Regions from separate parts of the Homo sapiens genome. Here region 2 is linked to region 1. Evidence: fine-mapped expression QTL. Tissue or cell type: whole blood. Region 1 holds a variant in brackets; the other region holds the start of a gene. All regions are shown on one strand. Distances are from middle to middle. Region 1 overlaps SCARA3 (scavenger receptor class A member 3). Region 2 holds the start of CLU (clusterin).

What was found.
Region 2: it holds the start of CLU, and the variant in region 1 is fine-mapped to the expression of CLU in whole blood (TOPMed, PIP 0.94).

The regions. Positions count from the first base shown.
Region 1 is chr8:27,641,916-27,651,955 of GRCh38, reverse strand. It overlaps SCARA3 (scavenger receptor class A member 3), which reads right to left. Exons shown (of 6, transcript NM_016240.3): 2 at 2,156-2,254; 3 at 329-448. Among named protein-coding and RNA genes, the nearest start is that of SCARA3, 13 kb to the right of the region's middle. RefSeq lists an enhancer at 393-893. The variant T/A (reference allele first, on the strand shown) is at 5,975.
Region 2 is chr8:27,609,471-27,620,534 of GRCh38, reverse strand. CLU (clusterin) reads left to right here and starts at 5,835. Exons shown (of 9, transcript NM_001831.4): 1 at 5,835-5,880; 2 at 9,935-10,060. The coding sequence starts at 9,964. MIR6843 (microRNA 6843) reads left to right here and starts at 9,784; the gene lies at 9,784-9,934. RefSeq lists enhancers at 3,200-3,956, 4,247-4,747, 5,704-6,203, 9,386-10,093, 10,800-11,064 and silencers at 5,592-5,681, 7,237-7,422.

The sequences.
Region 1 (10,040 bases):
GGGCCTAGACATCGACATTCTTTAAAGCTCCAAGATGGCTGTAACATGGAGCTGAAACTGAGAAGCACTGACCTGGTCGTATCATCTCATTACACCAATGGGAAAGAAGGGGTCCCCAGAGGCAGGTGCCTTCCTTAAGGCCACAGATCTTGTCAGTTGCCAGTGTCTGCAGTTTGCATTAGGCATAGAGATCCCCTAGCCAGGAAGATGCTGGCTCTGGGCCCTGGGATACAGATGTCAAGTGTTTGTCTTTGCAGGGGAACTTTTGGTGCTGGATCCCTGATCAGACACCCCCCTGCAGCCCGGGGTGGGAAAGCCCCGGACTCACCCAGAGAGGCCAACACAGCCACGGCCACCAGGAGCAGGGCCAGGAAGAGGTAAAGAATCCGCACCGATGTGTGCAAAGATAGGTTCTTCTGGCAGCGGCTGCAGCGGGGCCCTGGCCGGCCTGTGGGGGACACAAGGAGGACAATGGCTTAGGCCAGGGGCCCAGGTTGGAGCTGAAGGGTCAGTTCCATGTTCCTGCTCTGGTCTGTCTCATCACATTCAAACCAGGCTCAGAAGGGGAGCTGTTCTCGACCCTCATTCTCTACCTGTCCTACCTCCTTTCTCTAGGTGCTGGTGCTTTCTGGAATGCAGGAGACCGAGTCAGGACTTCAAAGAACAGCCCCCAGCACTACCATCATCCTCTCTCCATGGTGTCTTCATTCGGCCCATGGGGAGGGGAAACACCTCTTCCCTCTCCATTGGTCCTACTGAGGACCCACAGGATGAGCAGCCAGCCTGAGGCCCCACTGAGTGACCAACTTGTCTGGGCTTGCCCAGGATCTTCTGGGTTTTAGCACTGAAAGTCTCCCATCACAGGAGCTCCTCAGCATGGTGCCAATCATCCTGGTTTGCTAAGATTGTCTGGGTTTTAAAACTGAAAGCCTGCCGGGTACAGTAGCTCATGCCTGTAATCCCAGCACTTGAGGAGGCTGAGGCAGGGGGATCACTTGAGCCCAGGAGTTTGAGGCCAGCCAAGGCAACATAGCAAGATCCCATCTCTATTTTAAAAAAGAAAAAAGAAAATGAAAAGCCCCACACCCTGGGAATCCCCTCAGTCCCTGGCAAACCAGAATGTTGGTTACCAGTCCCCAAACTTTTCAGGGAACCAGAAGTTCTCCTGGAAACCAAACAAATAGTCATGGTCCACCAGTTGAATTGTTGGCATGGAGGAAAGAGGGAACCAGATGGTCCTGAATACACAGACAGGTGGCCAACACCCAGTGGGAATGCAGTGATGGCCCAGCTGCGAATTCCTAAGGTGAACTCACCTTTAGCCACACATTCTGACTACTAGGACGTTTAAAAATCCTGATGCCCAGATCACACTCCAGGCCAAATAGGAATTTCCAAGGGTTGGTCTCATGCATCCATGGGTGATTGCAATGAAGAGCCAAGGTTGAGAACAACTGCTCTACTCTACACCAAAGTCACTGAGACCCCATTCCAAACAGCAGTTCAGGTGGCATGGGACACAATGAAGGGGACAGTTCCAGGCCAGCTAGAAGACAGGCCCCAGGGACAGGGTATGTAGCTCTGGGAGATGGCAGAAGTCCCTGATGGGTCTCGGGAGGACCCCAGGAGACAGGTGGCACTTGTGTCAAGCTTTGATTTCAGGCCAAGCACAGTGGCTCACACCTGTAACCCCAGCAATTTGGGAGGCTGAGGCGGGCAGATCACTTGAGGCCAGGAGTTTGAGACCAGCCTGGGCAACATAGCAAGACTCTTGTATCTACAAAAAATAAAAAAAATTATCCAGGCATGGTGGTGCGTGCCAACAGTCACAGCTACTTGGGAAGCTGAGGTGGAAGGATCACTCGAGCCCAGGAATTTGAGGCTGCAGTGATCTGTGGTTGCACCACTCATACTAGCCTGGACGACACAGCAAAACCATGTCTTTAAGAAAAAAAAACATTAAACTCCTTTGACTTCACTGGTACTGCACGCCCAGGGCCGTGAACTCTGCCCTTTCACCATCCAGGAAGCAGTGGGGAAAGGACACCCAGGCTTTTGAAACCACCTAAAGAGACAAATCTCTCACTGGCCTGGGGATGGAGACAGGGATCTCTCAGCCCAGAGCGGAGATCAGGGGCAGCCCCAGAGTCCTTACCCTTCTGGGTGCATGGGAAGGTCGGCATGTCCTCGTCGTCACCCGCCAGGTCCTCTTCTGTAACGCACAAGGCATCTCCATCGCCGCCGGCCGACCTCACTATAATGAAGCCAGTGCCGTCAGACCCAAAGCCATCCCAGGCCTCTCCAGCAGCCCCTTTTATTTACCTGTCCCCATATCCCATGCCCACCTCTACCCCTGAGCCAGCTCACTGAGCTCCAGGTGGCCTGATGTAAGCTGCAAAAAGGGAGCGGACATAAGAATCAAGTGGCTGAGGAGCTGGGATGTCCCACCCCTCTGGGTGAGGAGAGCTCCCCATTTTCCACACGCTGGGAAAGACACATGGGCCACCTCAGTGCCTGCTCTCTCTGGAGCTTGCTGAAACCCATGAAGGTGGAGTAAGGAGAAATAAGAGCTGGCTGCTTGCTCTGGCTTAGCGTCCTTCTATTCCCCAATACTTGGTCACCGAAGCAGAATTCCTCTTCTCCAGGGACAAGGCTGAATCTGGCCACAGCATAGTCCCCACCAAGACTCTGCCTCCAGCATAGCCAGGAGGAGGCCAGAGGGAGGAGGAGATGACAGGATGGGCGCAGATCCCTGCTTCACACAATCTCACCTAGGACCCATCAGGGTGTCAAAGGGCCTTGGGCGGAGCAGGTCTCCTTTCAGAGTTTGATTCGGTGCTTATTCTCTGGGACAATATGGTCCCTAACTAAAACCTAGATGATGTATCCCTCACTCAGAAGATTCCTCTAGTTCCCCAGACACCCTTCACCTCCCACTCCCTGTAAGTAAGACCTGGCCTTTTCTTCCCTTTCTCCTTCCTTCCATCCTTCCTTCCCTACTTTCCTCCCTCCTTTCCTTACCTCTTTCCTTCCCTTTCTCCTTTCCTTTCCTTTCCTTCATTCCTTCCTTCCTTTCCTTCCTTCCCTACTTTCCTCCCTCCTTTCCTTCTCTCTCCCTCCCTCCCTCCTTTCTCTCTTTCTCTCTCCTCCCTCTCCCTCTCTCTTTATCTCTTTCTTTGCCGTTTTGTTGGGTCCTTAAGGATTCCCTGCTTTCTTTCACCTTTAGCTATGCACTTAGCAGTATGTCTGTAGTTTATTTAATGTCTACATTTTATAGCCCGAGAATATTTTAAGCTGGTAATGCTAGAAGTAGAAGCTTCAAGTTTTCCTTTTTTCCTTTTTTTTTTCTTTTGAGACAAAGTCTCACTGTGTCGCCCAGGCTGGATTGCAGTGGTGCTATCTCGGCTCACTGCAAGCTCTGCCACCTGGGTTCACGCCATTCTCCTGCCTCAGCCTCCCGAGTAGCTGGGACTACAGGTGCCCGCCACCACGCCCGGCTAATTTTTTGTATTTTTAGTAGAAACGAGGTTTCACCATGTTAGCCAGGATGGTCTCCATCTCCTGACCGTGATCCACCCACCTTGGCCTCCCAAAGTGCTGGGATTACAGGCGTGAGCCACTGCGCCCTGCCTCCTTTTTGTTTTTAATGCAATAAAGTGCTGGGTTTTGCCTCAAGGCAATCTTCACAACATCTTATAAACTTTACAGTCCAGAGAGTCACATTTATAGACAAAAAGACTGAGGTTCAGGGAAGTGAAGAATGTTGCTTAGCAGCCCACAGAATAGAAGTGGTGAAGCCAAGATGTGAACTCAGAAATCTTTTCTACCATACCTACAACCACCTTGAGGTAATGAGCAAAGGTTCCACAAAGTGCTAAGAAACCTTGCTTCTGCAACTACAAGGTCAGCGGGTAGACAAGAAGAGGGTGGTACATGAATGAGCTGCGGAGCCTCGGGGGCTCCTGACCATGATTGATGGGCATCTTGAGCCGCATCCTAGACCTGTGAGTACCTGAGGCCCAAATGCCATGCCACGGCCATTGTGATCAACATAGGAGCTGAGATGCAGTTGGCAAGGCGCTGTTGGTAAGCAAAGGCAGCTCTGAATGGACTCAGTAGGGAGGGGACTGAGGGTGACCCCAAATTAAAAATGCCACCATCAAGACCACGAGTGCCCTCTGCTCGGCCTTCACGCATGGCTTAAACGTCACTTCCCCAGCAGTCTTTCTTGAGCTCTCAGACTAGCGTAAGGCCCTGTTGCCCACACCTCACATGCTCTGTGCTCTCCCTAGGAGAATGCTCCTCTCCTGTCCATGCGGCAGCTCTCTTCCCCAGCGCTTCAGTTCCAAGGGCAGGGACTATCTGTCATGTTCACTGCTTTATCCAACATCCCTAGCACAGTGGCCGGCACAGAGAGCCGGCACAGAGAAAGGCTCAACAAACACAATTTCAAATAAACCAATGAAGGATTTGGTATTAGGCTTCCCAGCAGTTCTATGCCTGCCTGTGGAGCTCTCTGGGGAGCTTTCAAGGGTCCACCCCCAGAGATTGAATTAATCTGGGGCGACAAAGGAGACCTGGGGTTTAGGACTTTGAAAGCGCTCTCACATCTGTTATCCCATTTGATCCCTACAACTAGTCTGAGAGACAGAGAGAGAACATTTTCTCCTGATTTGATAGGTGAGGAAACTAAACTTTGTGTATGTGTGCACATGTGTGTGAGGGTGTGTCCGATGCATGTGTGAGTATACATGCATGCCTGCGTGTGTGCCTGTGCTTGCACATGTGTGCACGTGCATTTTTGCCCATGAGTGTGCATGTGTGTGTACCTGTGTATGTGTGGTGTGAGGTTGTTAATGCCTGGCTCAAGTCATAGAGCTGGGCAGTGGCAAAGCTTCCGGAATCCTGGTTTTCCTCTCCACAATAGGAGATTCCAGGTAGGTTTGCTTTCCGGGGCAATAGTGTGTGTGTGCGGGGGGGGGGCGGGGGCGGTCAGGGGTGCGGGCAAGTGCTTTGGAGGGTAAAGCGGGAACAGCAAGGAAGCATGAGAAGTTTGTTTTCATGCATATCCTAAGAAGCACTTTCAGCTCTCCTTGGGCAGCTGTCCCATCGTCAATCTGCCAACAGTTTACAAGGAAGCCTGGCCTGGGCAGTCACCAGGATTATGATCTCTTTCCCATAAATGAATGGCTGGGGCAAGGCAGGGGAATTCCTTGGTACCTTCTGTTTCTGTCTGACCAAAACCTCACCCTAGTAGCCATGGCCTCTCACCTCCAGAGACCCCAGTCAGAACCACGTTGTGGGCTGTGGGCTGTATTCACCACTGCCCCGGGGCTACCGTGGGGAGGTATTCCTTCCAACCCTTAGAGCAGAGCTGCCTCCTTGGCCGGGTTCCTCGTTTCTCTCCATCCTTGATGAGCTCCTCTGCCCTCCCCCGTGACTGGGCCTCCTCCCTGTTCTGGCTCTAGGGCCCATTTCATCACTTCACTGTTTATAGCCTTTGCAGGGAATCTGGGATGACTTAAATCAAGCAAGGCTGACACCAGCCTTCAGCAAACACCCTCTCAAAAAACACAGAGCTTTGTTATAACCAGCTTTCCCAATGGACAGCCCCCCAGATTAGCAACTGTTAGCCAGTGGAAATTGCTAACGAGGCTTTCCAGTAACGCACCGAGTGACCCATGGGAAGGGAAGTGGCGGCTGCCAGCGAAGATCTTGGATCTCTCTAGACTAGGGGGACCACGGGTGTTTGGCCATCTTCCCTCCACTGACATCTCAGCTCCATAACTCACAGCCCTCCCCAATCCCCAAAGAGGTCTTCTCTCTCTAATCCCTTGGATTTCCTGTCTTCCAGCACTAAGCCCCGGACTGTGGGGACCCCTGACTCACCTATGTCTGGAATGCTGTAGTAACTCACCACTGTAGCCTCGTTCACTTAATGAGAACATAATCCAAAGCATTTGTGAGGCTCTTA[T/A]AAGCCGAGCCCTTTGCAAGCACAAGCTCATTATGTTCATGTTATACCAAGATTGTTCTGATCAGAATATGTATGGATGAATAAACAGTCACCAAGAATGAAAAAGCCCTGGCTGAGGCCCCAGAGTAGTGATTGATCAGAGGATGACTGATTAGGCAGGCATCCGTAGTGCCTCCTTGAACTAGGCCAAGCAGGGTTAATAGAGATGGGAAAAGAATTTCCTTCCCCTCTCCGTCTTCTATGCCTATTCTCCTGCCATTAAGGGCAAACTGACTTAGAGTTAGGTGCACCAGCTCTCCAAAGGGGTTTCAGGGATAGAGAACCACAGCCTGAGAGGGTGGGAAGGGAATTTGCAAATTCACCTCCATCATGTCACAAAGGCTCAGAGAGGTTAAGTGGCCTGGAAGCTGGTTAGTGGCTCCTAAATATCCAAGAATCTGAGGCAGAATCCAAACACGCATTTGAGTGTCTGCAGAGTTGCACATGCCCATCTCAGAAACGCCTCAGAACTGGGACAAGACCTTTCCATATAAGCCTGATATCTGTTGACAGGTCACGCTCCTAGCAGTTTGCTACATCCCTGTGGTCAGGAAAGCTCCCCTCAACTGCTTTCAGCACAGGGTTGATCACATAGTGGATGTTCCATAAAGATGTGTTTTCTGGCCCTCGGCGAAGGCCTATGTCTTCAGTTAACTGTTATCCTCTGCTATTTTAATCAGGAGCTCATGTGTATTTAAAAAATGAAGATTGATGACTTAAAATAGGGTTGGAATCTGGTTTATTCTTAGGATTCTCCATGGCTAGGGAGTGTTGGGGACGATGGATGCATTTGGAGTGCAAAGGCTTAATTTATATACCTTTCGAAATTTATAAAATTTTGCAGCGAAGGCGAAATTTATATACCAAGGGCTGGTGTTTGAACTGCAAAGGAATGAGCTGGTGGAGGACTGGGTAGGAGCAAAATGTTGGCTCTACTTCCCCTCCCCTTCGCAGAACAGAACAAGGGACATCATATTCTTCTCCTGAAGCTCCAAGGGTTCTTGTTTGGGGGGGTCGTGTTTTTCCATTGTTGTCCCAGTTAATTGCTTTTCAATACCACCTGTATGTAATATGTCTATAGCTCTCTAAAGTAAGGCGCTGGTTCTTGTCTGTGTCATGTATAAAGAAATGTAGGACTCTTGACATGCTGAAAATCGAGGAGTGCCTGAGTGTGAAGCATGCTGGGTGTCTGGAAGGGGTAATGAAATCATCATGTTATGATAGGCTCTAGGTGTCTAGAGAGAGACTCCGTTTATAGGAAGGCAGAAATAGCACTGGTTGCCTTCTGTCTCTCTTCTCTCTCTCTCTCTCTCTCTCTCTCCCCTTCTTTTCTTCATTTTGTGGATTCCAGGAGCAAGGTTATTTTGGCAGGAGCGGATGGGCTTGGAAGAGGACACTGGAGAAGATAAGGTGATGCTGGGACCTAAAAACCTATGGGAAAACTCCTCTCTGGGAACAAACTTGGGACAGCATGGGAATCATGAAAGAACGAACATCTAAGACTCCATGAGCCAGTTTCTGCCTGCTCTGATCCCAAGGCCCCAAGGGACCACAGCTGCTATGAGGGAGGGCCATGGTCCCTGTCATAAAGAAGCCAGCCCCATGGATTTCCTAGTGAAAGGCACAGCCAGGCCCCAATCTTCTTGCAGTGATTACTACCCAAATCGCAGGCAAGGTGCTTAGAAAAAAAAGTTAAATAGCCTGGGAAGGCCAAGGCCAAGGCCAAGGCTGCAAACCCAGACCCATAAAATAGTGGTGACCACTAGAAATTTGAAAGGGCCTCTCTTCCTGTCATCCCTTAGGTCACAATATCCATCTCAAACTCCAGAAAGGACAGCCACAAGAGGAGAAATTCCTTTTTTTTTTTTAAGTCTGCTCTCACAGAGCCACGTAGCAAGTTTGATGGAGGGTGCATGCCTTGGCACATTGCTAAGCACGGCCACTGACTCCACTGGGGTTGAGCTTGGTTCAGCTCTCCCTTTGGGGGTAGAAAATAGCCCGGACCTGTTAACCAACTGCTAACTCAACTGTGGTCACCAATGCCGGCTTTCTTTTGGTTGACCAAAAATGTGTCCTTGGTTCCCTCTTTCGCCTTTCTGGGACTGCATTCTTCCATCTGAGTCAACAAGGGGGAGAGATTCGAGGAACTGAATAAAAGGTCTTTCTTTGGGCACTTCAAGGAACATATTTTGATAATTATCTTCTGCAGGGTTCACAGAGTGGGTTTTCAAAACAGCCAATTGGATCGGTAAAAATAAAGATTTCAGAGTCTTCTCTGGAGCCAATGCTATATTTAAAGTGCAGAATAGCTATTAGTTTAAGGTTGGAGAACGCTATAAGTAAGGTTGCAAAATTGTTTTCATTAGAGCCCTTCCGCCACTACCCCCTCTCCACAGGCTTCCTTTGTGGGTTTGTCTGTAATCGGTTGGGAATCCGCCTGCCCGCTCAGGTCTCAAGACACAGGTCCTTTCCCTTCAAATCTTCTTGCTCAACAAGTTGTCCTTTTCTGCTTCCGTGGCTCTGCCAGTTTCTCTCCTCCAGCACTCGCCCCTTTTTTGGTCCCCATCCTCAAGCTCCTGCATCCCTAAAGCCACATCTGCTGCTCTGAGACAGGCTTCCCTCCCGGTTCCTGCTACCTCCACCTGAATCCCTTTGGCTGCCTCCCACCCTGTTCTTGGTAACCACAGAGGTTGTGGGTAAATCCCTGCTTTATCCTAAATCCCCTTTATCCTAAACAACTTTCTTGCCCTCAACTTTTCTAACTTGGACCCTATTCCAGGTGGTGCAATTCTTCATTAGATGAGCACGGCCCACTCTGCACAGACATTCAGCATCCTGGCCTTGCCCGCTAAAGGCCAATAGCAATCCCTGGTCATTGTGACAACCCCGAATGCCCACCCATTTCTAAATACCTGCTCGCAGGCTGGTGCTGCCTCTAGTTGAGACAAGAACCTAGGCTACTCACTCAATGCAACAGACTCCCCCCATTACTTACACACTGATCTCCTCTCTGTCCACAGCACCAACCCCCCCGACTCCCCTGAACCCCATGAATTCAGAGGGATGGGAGGGGTGGGAATCACTGGCTTTCTTTTCTTTTCTTTTTTTGTTTCTTTTTATAGACAAGGTCTTGCTCTATTGGCCAGGCTGGAGTGCTGTGGTGCGATCATGGCTCAGTGCCGCCTAGACCTCCCGGGTTCAAACGATCCTCCCACCTCAGCCTCCTAAGTAGCTGAGGCTACAGGTGTGTGCCATCACACCCAGCTAATCTTGCTTATTTTTTGTAGAGACAAGATCTCACTATGTTGCCCAGGCTGGTCTCAAATTCCTGGCCTGAAGTGATCCTCCTCCCTGGGTCTCCCAAAGTGCTGGGATTACTGGCATGAGCCACCATGCCTGGCCAGGAATCACCAGTTCTCTTGATCCCCGTTGTCACCCCTGATCCTGCAAATCCTACCCTGTCTCGCATGGGCACCCCACTTCCCTCCTCTGAGTTTCATGTTCCTTATGCGTAAATGGTGGGGAGATCGTCCGCTTCAATGAGCTGCTGTGAAAATCCAATGAGACGTATATGAAAAGTACCTGGTACATCGTAAATGCTTAATAAATAGTAGTAGCAGCCACTTTTATTAGGATTATTTTTCTATCCTATTCCAATTAATGCTGCCATTTATTGCCATCTCCCAACCCCCATCACTCCCAGGACCAATTTCCAACTTACAAGAAATCAGTGTTTCAAAACATATCCTATGGGACACTAGTCCCAAATTATTCTTTGTGAAAAAGGATTATTTGATCAAGTAAGTGTGGAAAACATGGCATACTCTATCGCCATCTTAGAGATTCACATTCACATAGTAAGCATTTTGAAAAGTCCTGCCAAAAAAAATAATAAGCCCATTTAAATCTGTGTTTAACTCCACGTTTCTCAGACTTATTTGGTCATGGAACTTCCTGCAGATCTTGAAAAATAAATGTATCTTTTAATTCTGGGACCTATGTTCAGAGGCAGAGGGACTCTGACTTT
Region 2 (11,064 bases), 32 kb after region 1:
GCAGTTCTCCTGTGTTTGGTGTAAAAGCCACACAGAGGGACAATGAAGAAATGTGGCATCCTTGGGGGCAGGGATGAGAAGAGTGAGGTTATCTGGAAACTCCACTCTATGCGAGGATGTTGAGGGACATTACACTGTAAGGAAATACATTTAAGCTGAGATACAATATTGGTTTTCAAATGTTTGAAGGGCTTTCTTGTGGGAGGGACCAACTTATCATGTATTGATTTAGAAATAAGATATGGGACAAAGAATTTATAAGGTGGTGGCCAGGCGCGGTGACTCACACCTGTAATCCTAGCATTTTGGGAGGCAGAGGCGGGCAGATCACTTGAGGTCAGGGGTTCAAGACAAGCCTGGCCAACATGGTGAAACACTGTCTCTACTAAAAATACAAAATTAGCCGGGTGTGGTGGTGCACACATGCAATCCCAGCTACTCAGGAGGCTAAGGCACAAGAGTCGCTTGAACCCAGGAGGAGGAGGTCACAGTAAGCCGAGATCATGCCACTGCACTCCAGGCTGGGCGACGGGATGAGCTCCGTATTAAAAAACAAAACAAAACCAAAAAAAAAAGAAGTTATAAGGAGGCAGACTTTAGCTCTGTGTAAACAAAACCCTGCCAAGATTCCTTTGCCCTCTTTTACATCTTCTATAAAATGAGAACAATATCAGATGCTCTAATAATGACAGAGAGGTGCAGTAAGGAACAGATGGGGTAAATTCAGAAGTGGTCCTCGACTTTAGGTGCTCATTAAAATGATTTGGAGAGTTTTAAAATCCTGATGCTCTGGCAGCACCCACAATTAATTCATTCATAACCTCTGGAGGTGGGACTCAGGCACTGATAATTTTTAAAGTTCCCAGGAGATTCCATTGTATATCCATTGTGTAGTTCCACTGAGAACCATTGATCTAAAATAAGTATTAATTGCCATCTGGGTAGTTGTGGAAAAAGTAGGTTTGACTTAAAGCAGATCTGGCACCATTTTTTGAAGGGCTCATTCACCTAATAATTGGAGCTAAAGGTCACAGTAAAGCAACTCTGGAGTGAAATACAGAACACATAGCCACTCAATAGCATGAGGGACAGTGAAGGTGGCATAAGCGACATTTGTTTACTTGTAGGCACATGCTAAACAGTTCAGGATTGGCTAGCCTCAGACCTTTACCCAAGAAGATCCTGAATGGGGAGATGAGACACACCCACTGATGGAGTGAATGTTTCTGGACTTTACGGAGGTCCGGAGAAAATCACTCAGAATACCTCTGTATCATCTATGGGCTGATTTCACTGGATATGATTTTATTAGCCACCATTTGATCATGGGCCTGTAATTGATTAAATAAATGTATATACCCATTAAATAATTACAGCTTGGAAAGTGATTCTTTTTTACTAAGAATCATTTGTGATCTTTTTACTAAGATCGTTTGTGTAATGATCGAATTAGGGTAATTAGCAAATCCATCCTTTTGTTTGTTTGTTTGTTTGTTTTTGGATGGAGTCTCACTCTGTTGCCAGGCTGGAGTGCAGTGGTGCGATCTCAGCTCACTGTAACCTCCAGCTCCCGGGTTCAAGCAATTCTCCTGCCTCAGCCTCCCGAGTAGCTGGGACTGCAGGCGCGTGCCACCATGCCCAGCTAATTTTTGTATTTTTAGTAGAGACAGGGTTTCACCATGTTGGCCAGGATGGTCTCTTGACCTAGTGATCTCCCCACCTCGGCCTCCTGAAGTGTTGGGATTATAGGCGTGAGCCACTGCACCCAGCCTTTCACTAAGTTAAAAAAAATTAAAACTGACACGAGAATGGTACATATTTGTGGGGTACAATGTGATGTTTTGATACGTGCACACATTGTGTAAGGATCAAATTAGGGTAATTACCAAATCCATCTCAAACATTTCTTTGTGGTGAGAACATTGTAAGTTCTCTCTTCTACCTATGTTGAAATATACATTATTCAAAAAATAAGAGGTGCTGGTGAGGTTGTGGATAAAAGGGAAGGCTTATATACACTGTTGGTGGGAGTGTAAATTAGTTCAACCATTTTGGAAAGCAGTGTGATGATTCCTGAAAGAGCTAAAAACAGAATTAACATTTCACCCAGCAATCTCATTACTGGGTATATATAGGAATATAAATTGCTCTGCCATAACGACACATGCACTCATATGTTCATTGCAGCACTATTCTCAATAGCAGAGGCATGGAATCAACCTAAATGCCCATCAGTGGCAGACTGGATAAGGAAAATATGGTATATATACACCATGGAATACTACGGTATACACCATGGAATACTATGCAGCCATAAAAAAGAACGAGATCATGTCTTTTGCAGGAACATGGATGGAGCTGGAGGCTATTATTCTAAGTGAAGTAACACAGGAACAGAAAACAAAATTCTGCATGTTTTCACTTATAAGTGGGAGCTGAATGATGAGAACACATGGACACATAGAGGGGAGCAATAGATACTGGGACCTAAAAAAAAAGTTAAACTCTACTATGCGATAGAATACCAGAACTTATCCCTCCCATCTGACTTTAACTGTGTACTGGTTGACCAATCTCTCACCATCCTCCCTCCCTGCTCCCCTTGGAGAGTGATTCTCTTATTTTTTTCATTTTTATTTTTGAGAGACAGGGTCTCACTTTATTGCCCAGGCTGGAGTGCAGTGGTGCGATCGTAGCTCACTGCAGCCTTGACCTCCTGGGCTCAAGCGATACTCCATCTCAGCTTCCTGAGTAGCTGAGATTGCGGGCATGCACTACCATGCTTGGCTAATTTTTTAATTTTTGTAGAAACTGGGTCTTGCTATGTTGCCCTGGCTGGTCTTGAACTCCTGGACTCAAGTGATCCTCCCACCTCAGCCTCCCAAAGTGCTAGGATTACAGGTGTGAGTCACCACGCCCATCTGAGAGTGATTCTTAATCACAGGCCACAGGATACTGCTCTTGCCCATTCCTAGTTTGTTCCAGCTGTATCAGACTGCTGGCTGAGCTGTCCTGCTTGTGGTGCTGAGCCAGACAAAGGCTGGTTGGGGATGTGTAATAAGGACACTGCGTAGCGAAGCAGCCCCAGAGACATTCAGGCAGCCAGAGATGGTGCACAAAGCATAGATAAACAGATAAATGCAAGGGTCTTTACTCATCCCTCCCTGGCCCTCCCCATGGCTCTGACTCTCCAAGAAAATAAATCAAGCTAATGCCCCAAACCCAGCTGTGTAAGTCCATAATGGGAGACAGAGGATCAAACAGCAGCACCTGCCAAGAAGATGATGCATTCTCTATGAATCAGCCCAGTGACTCAGCATCTGATAAAGCTTATTTGGAGTGTTTAGGGCAAGGGAAGGGGTGGTCCTGTTCTGCTTTGTGTGCTCAGGCCCTCCGGCATTGGCTGGTCCAAGGCTCCCCACTGGCATTGGCTAGTCCAGGGCTGGGCCAAGGGTTTCAAGAGAGATGAGGTCCAGAATGTCAAAGGGCTGGGGAAAAGTCTGCAAACCACGGCAAGGCAAGGAGCTGCAAGCCTGGAGGTCACTGGGAAAAGCAGACTACGTTGCCTTCAAATATCAGAAGGGGCACTATGGGAGAGATAGGCTGGATTTTCTCTGTGTGGCTCCAGAGGGCAGAACTGGGCTCCGGATTGGCCCATACACGAGCCAGACTGTGACTCAACCAAAGAAGGCCCTAACTTTATCAACAGCTTTACTAGACAAATGGTTGCATGGCAGGTAGTGAGCTCCCTGTTATTGGTGGCATTCAAACATGGGCAGGATGACCACCGGGTGCAGATGCTGGGGATGGGGTAGGAATCAAGCAGTGTGTGAGTCCTGAACCAATCAATGTCTATGATCTGCTTAGAATATGAAACATCTGGTGATGCATTTATGGCGCTTTCAAAATTTACACTTTTCTTTCCTCAAAGTTTGACCTTCTGAACCTTGTTTGCTTAGTAGTGGGAATAATCAAGTAATTATTCCCAAGGGATCACAGTCATGACTGTGAATCTGTGAATCATGCTATTTTCTCCCAAGTCCTTTCTTCCTCTCTTCCCTTCCCCTAATTCAGCTGGCTAAGGCGGATCTCACTGACTGACCTCCAAAGTCTAATTTTTAAAAATATAACTAGATTTATGCCTTCTGTTCCGGATGCTGAGGGAGCTACAGAACAGAAAAGTTACAAGGAGCGAGCTCAAAAACAATTCTTCTAACCTCAGGTATTGATAAGGAGCAGGCACTGATAAGGAGCAGGCACTGTCCACAGAAAATGTAGCTGTTACTGATAATTAGACATTTTTTTTTTAAGAAAAATAAAGTGTAGCCTCTTCTGGGACATTTTTTTCTTCTTCTGGGTTAATGGCCTTCTAATACTTGGCTTGGCTCTAGGTTAGGTTGCAGGGAGCCGTGGAGATGATCCATTCCCGATTCCTCATCGTCCAGATGGAAGAAACTGAGGCCCAAGGGCAAAGTGATTAGTCCGAGGTCACCCAGTGTCTAGGGGCACACCTAGGACTGTAATCAGACTTTCATGGACCTGGTCTGGGTTCTCCCACTTAGTCATGGGCCTTGAAGATTCCCCGAGGCTGCCTCCTGAAAAGGACTGGGGTCCTAGTGGCCCCTGGACGTTGGGCAAGCAAGGGACTGGGCCTCCATGTTGTGCCTCCATAGTCCTGATCCTGAACTGGAAAACTCAGCCCCTGACCACGCAGCTCTCCTTTAAGCCCCTTTGTTTCACATGGTTTTCAAAGTCTGCCACCCACAGTGGGGCTGCCTGTACCCGCCCTGTCCACCCATTGCCCCAGCTGTCAGCCCCTTGACTTCTCTCCTGGGGCTTAAACATCCCTGGCTCCAAAATGGGCAGCTCACTTTCTTCCCCAAGAAGTAGCTGCACCTCCAGGGTTCCTAGATTTGCCCCTCCTTGCCAGGGGGAGGGGTGGCTGCGACAGGAGATTCTCCCTGCTCTCAGCAGAAGGAACTCCAGCAGTTGGAGACCAGCAAACCCCTCTGGACACAGATCTGATTTCCTAACTGGGAAGGCTCAGGGCAAAATAAAAATTCAGGTCCACTGGTTCAAAAACTATGAAGAATTTCAAGACCGTCACAGTAGCCCATTAAACCAAACGTGGATCTGCAAGGGTCCCACAGCCATGAAGCCCACCCTGCTTGGTTGGGTTCCAAAAAGATGGGGACAGTGATTGCTTAAGCTCTGTGGATCAAGGACCCCGGAGAGGCCTTCTGGCTCTCCACATATCTGCTCTGATCACTCCTAAACACAATTCTGTTTCCTCCAGGCCTGGCGGGTCAGTCCAGGGACCCCCATCAGTGTGATGTTTCCAGGAGTAGGCGTTTCAATACTTCCTGTGCTCTCTTCTCCAGCACAAGGCCCCTCTCCATCCCACCCTCATTATGTCTGACTCTTTACTATTTAAATGGGTCAAGAGAAGTGGCGCTTGTGTAATGTGAAGGTTAAGGTCAGTAGGGCCAGGGAACTGTGAGATTGTGTCTTGGACTGGGACAGACAGCCGGGCTAACCGCGTGAGAGGGGCTCCCAGATGGGCACGCGAGTTCAGGCTCTTCCCTACTGGAAGCGCCGAGCGGCCGCACCTCAGGGTCTCTCCTGGAGCCAGCACAGCTATTCGTGGTGATGATGCGCCCCCCGGCGCCCCCAGCCCGGTGCTGCACCGGCCCCCACCTCCCGGCTTCCAGAAAGCTCCCCTTGCTTTCCGCGGCATTCTTTGGGCGTGAGTCATGCAGGTTTGCAGCCAGCCCCAAAGGGGGTGTGTGCGCGAGCAGAGCGCTATAAATACGGCGCCTCCCAGTGCCCACAACGCGGCGTCGCCAGGAGGAGCGCGCGGGCACAGGGTGCCGCTGACCGGTGAGATGTCCCCGTCTTCCCTACCCTTGAGCAGAGCCACACCAGGACGGATGGGCGGGCAGGGGATGGCAGCCAGGCAGAGAGGGATGACACAGCTCGCAGTCACAACCCCTGCGCTTTCGACGGAGCCCAGGAAGCCAGGGAGGGGAGGTGGCCGGAGCCCCATCACCAGGCAGCTGAGCCAGGGGCCCCGGCGCAACCGCCGCCTGAGAGCACGAGCTCCAACCACAATTCTGTGGTGGGGGGGTAAATAGAACAGATATAATGATCATCCTTTCGCAAAGATGGGGAAACTGAGACCTGGAGACCTGCCGCGTTGCGGGAGACCCAGGCTAGCAGGTGACAGAGCTGGCCTGCACCGAGCTCCTTCCTGCAGCATATCCTCTGCGAAGATGCGGATCTCTCAGTTGTGGCTTTCGGCTTGCATGCATGAGTCATCTAGTTTTCTTCTAAATTCTCTAGCTCTCTGGACACTGTTGCCTGTAAGTATGAGGCTGCGGATTTCAGTATATGCTGCAACCACCGAAATCCGACTTTTTCTGCCTCCTAATGCATCTGAGGTGCATCAGAGAAAAGTCACACAAGATCCACCAGGCCTCAGACCTCTGATTCCACAGTCTCATTTTACAGATGATAATCTGAGGCCTGGAGAGGTTTAGGACTGGTGCCAACACTAAACAGCAAATAAGTATCAGAATTGGGATTCGAGCCAAAGCCTCTTGACCTTCCAGAATTTCTGGACCTAGTTAAAAAAAATATGATTTTTATTATTATTTTTTAAACGGAGAGGTTAGGAATTTAAAGGAAAGTACAGATACTATATAAAAAAAGATGCCCATGAAAATGTTAAGTTATAATAATAGTGGAGCATTGGGCACAACTGAAATGGCCAATCTTGTGAGAATGGTAAAATAAACTTAGGTCCGTGAGTAAGTGGAGTATTACATAGCCATAAAAGTATGCCCTTAAAGAATATTTGAAGATGGTGAATGTGAAGAATCTTGTATAAACTGCATGGAAGACAGAAGGAAATATACCACAGTGCTAACCTTTGCCTCTGGGTGATATGAATTACCGGTGATTATTTTTCTTATTTTCCTTTTGGTTTAGTTTTCTCCATTTGAAGAAGCAGATAGGAGCCGGGGCTTTGGGATTGAAACCCTCACCATCTGTGTGCCCTCTTCACTGTCTTCCCATCCTCCCCACGGCTCCCTGTTCACAGTCATTGATTTTCTTTCTTTCTTTTCTCTCTTTTTTTTTTTTTTTCCTGAGACCAAGTCTCACTCTGTTGCCCAGGCTGGAGTAGAGTAGCGCCATCTCGGCTCACTGCAACCTCCGCCATCCGGGTTCAAGCAGTTCTCATGCCTCAGCCTCTGAGTAGCTGGGACTACAGGCGCATGCTGCTACATCCGGCTAATTTTTGTATTTTTAGTAGAGACATGGTTTCACCACCTTGGCCAGGCTGGTCTCGAACTCCTGATCTCAAGTAATCCGCCTGTCTTGGCCTCCCAAAGTGCTGGGGTGACAGGTGTGAATCAATGCGCCCTGCCAGGTCATTGATTTTCTTAAGCCTCCAGCCCTGCCCTGCTTGGAAACGTTTTGGGAAGCTGCTCAGTTCAAAGTTCCCAGGAGGGTGTGCCTGGAGGGGAGTTGCTCCCAAAGTCTGCCTGCTCCCCCCGCCCCCCCTGCCCCCCACCCCCCGCCATCTTCTCCTCCTCCTCTTCCCCTGAGCAGCCCCTTTGTCCACAGAACCGGCCTTTTCTGGTAGAAGGAGCAAGGCCAAGTGGTTTAAGCCTTCTTAGGGAGAATGAGGCTGTGTGGTAGTGCTGGGGACTCGAGGGCCTTGGCCTTGGCATGGCTCTTCCACCCAGGGCAGCTGGCAGCCAGGCTCCCAGGAGGCAGAGGAGATGAGGGGGGAGGTGAGTCCGAGCAAAGGAAAGGAGGTCGGCTGTGCAGTCACGGTTCTAGAACATTCCTTGGATCAGCAGCATCCATATCACCTGCAGACTGGCTGGAAAAGCAGTCTCAGAACCAACATTATAACCAGCCCTGCAGTGATTCATAAGTACTTTAAAAAGTGGTCAATCATTTCAGCAAAGCAGAGCCACACAGTCCGGGGGACCACAGGTGGCCTCTGTGTGCTTGTCTCGGTTTTCCTGCCCCTCTCCAGACATGTTGATTAGACACTGCCAATGCCCAGCCTCAGACCTCAGTCTAATTTGGAAGTAGTCAGAATTTACTATGATTACATAAGACCCTCGTGTTTACAGAACACATTCCCCTCTCTGAGGTCTGGATTAGATCCATTTTACAGATGAAGAAACTGAGGCTCAGATATTTAAGTGACTTGGAATCAAGGAAAGAATACTGGACTAGGGGTCGGGAGGGCTGGGCTCTCATCCCAGGGTTACCATGAGCATGCTGTGGACTCTAGGGAGTCCCATGCCCTCTCTGGGCTTCAGCCTCACCGCTAGGGTAGAGAGGTTGGGTGAGAGAACGACCTCCTTCCCAGGTCTGAGCTGGATGGTTCACCAGGGACCCCAGGCTCCCTGGAGCAGACTCTGTGCCCGCTGCTGAGTCTGGAATTCCTTTCCTGTATCTTGCCTTTGGCTGCCCCATTCTTCATGGCCCAGCACCCTGTCTTCTGGTCAGAACCTAGTTCTGAATGGGTTTTTCCAGAAGTTGTTGCTTTCAGGGGCCCCTGGCAGAGAGGTGTTTCTGGCTGGCTTTGTCTCTCTGGCATGACAAAGGCTCTGTTCCTGCTGGAGGCATTTCAGGGCTCAGTGGGCAGCTGGGGCAGAGCCCGTGAGACCACAGCCTTCCTGGTGAGCCCGGTCTCCGCCCCCTACCCCATCTCTGGGGAAGGCGCTGACCCCATCTCTTCTCCCACGCTGCTCCCTGGCTCTTTGCGCCTGATTACTTCTCATGAGAGGCACTCCTTGTTAATGTGCTACTGAGTGTCCAGATGGGCCTGCTGGGCTGAGCGGGCTTTGGATGTGAACCATTTCAGGAAGGGGAACCCCATCGTCCTGTTGGTTCTGTGATGGCAAATGGGTGAGCTCAGATAAGCAGTTCTTGGGAGGGGCATGGTGGGGGTGGAGTGCAGGGGGAGGGGTTTCTGTTTTATGCAACAGCCTCAGCTTCTGGGAAAGGGTCCATTGTGTAAGACCGGGGCTATGGCCTGTGCCCCGTGGCTCAGGGCAGCCAGCCCAGTGGTGGCAGGAACACTGGCAGGGCAGCCTGCTGTCGGCTTAGAGGGGATGGGCAGTGTGGAGGGCCTGGCAGAGCAAGAGGACTCATCCTTCCAAAGGGACTTTCTCTGGGAAGCCTGCTCCTCGGGCCACTGCGAACCCTCTCTACTCTCCGAAGGGAATTGTCCTTCCTGGCTTCCACTACTTCCACCCCTGAATGCACAGGCAGCCCGGCCCAAGTCTCCCACTAGGGATGCAGATGGATTCGGTGTGAAGGGCTGGCTGCTGTTGCCTCCGGCTCTTGAAAGTCAAGTTCAGGTGGTGCTGAGACTCCCTGGGGGCTGCAGCGCTGTGGTGAATGGGGAGCGTCTGCTGGGGTGAAGGTTTAGGTGCACATTGCAGAGGACGTGGCTGGTCTCTGGGATGCAGTCCCTCTGTGGAGGTGGCATGGGGAGGGACGGATGCATGACCTAAGGGGGGTATTTTCAGTGTCTGACATGATCGATACCACTCTGGACAAGGAGGCCAGGATGCAGAAAGCCTGTGTGCCTCGCTGATTGTCGGGGAGGATGTGGCTTGGACAAGAGCCTGGTTCCTCCGATGCCAGGGTTCTTGTTTCTTCCACTCAACATTGCTGTCCTGCAGTCCCTCCCTCCCTGCACCTCCTGCCTTCGCTTTCATTCGAGGTGTCCATGGCAAGTCTGGTCATTTCCCCCCATTTCCTCAGGAATAAAAGTGCAGCAGTGCCTGCTGTGGGGACAGCTGAGGGCAGTGAGGCCCTGGGGAGCTGCTGCAGGCAGCAGGTGGGCGGGACGCCAGCAGGCTGTCTAGCTGTTCCCATGATGGTCTCCTGTTCTCTGCAGAGGCGTGCAAAGACTCCAGAATTGGAGGCATGATGAAGACTCTGCTGCTGTTTGTGGGGCTGCTGCTGACCTGGGAGAGTGGGCAGGTCCTGGGGGACCAGACGGTCTCAGACAATGAGCTCCAGGGTGAGTAGACCAAGCATGATGTTCCTCTGGCCACAGGGTGATGAGGTCAGAGGGCAGGGTAGCTAATTCTGCTCAGTGCCTCTCTATCAGGCCCCAGTGTTACAGACCGTTTTTATCTTGTGCACTGGGTCTGGGTGCCTGTGTCTGGGCCCACTCTGAGCCTCAGCTCCGAGGCCCCTGGTTCAGGCTCTGCGTGCATCAGACTGCCGGCATTTGCAGGCATTTCCCAAGCACTTTCGGCTGTTGCATTTCATTCAGCTCTTCCCCTCCCAGGCCCCTTAGCCCAGCTCCCAGGCCTCCTCCACGAAGCTGTGTCTGGACCACCGGAGCTCTTATCCCTCTCCCCTTTGGAGTGCCCAGAGCTTATCCCTCCTGTGAGCTGACGGTTTCTGCAGGATCATTGTTAAAAACCCAGATCAGACATGGGTGTGAGTCTGTTTCACCTCTTCTCAGCTGGGTGACTTTGGGCCACTATCTTGATCTCATGACACTCCCCCCACCCCCCATTTTATTGAGATATAATTAACAAATAAAAATTGTGTATATTTAAGGTATATGACGTGATGTTTTGAAATGCACATACATTGAAATGATGACCACTTTTTATGGTGGGACGGTGGGAAGACTTAAAATCTACTTTCTTAGCAAATTTCCAGTTATGATATGGTGTTATTAACTATAAGCACCACCTGTATGTTAGACCTCCAGAACATACTCCTCCTACCTGATGAACACTTTGACCCTTTATCATATCACACTTCCCATGTCTCCCTCTGCGAAGTGGGCACGGCGGGGGGCTGGAGCATTATGTAAACTGCACATGAAGTGTTTGGCGCAGTGCTTGGCATGGGATAAACACCAGTGAAGTAGCACTTAGGTGACACAGTGTTTCGCTGCATTTGTCACCAGTGCTATACCTTACTCATTTACTCATCTTCTTATTCCTGTCGCCTGGCACTGCATTGGAACAAAGAAATACACATATCTGTTTAAACTGAACTCTA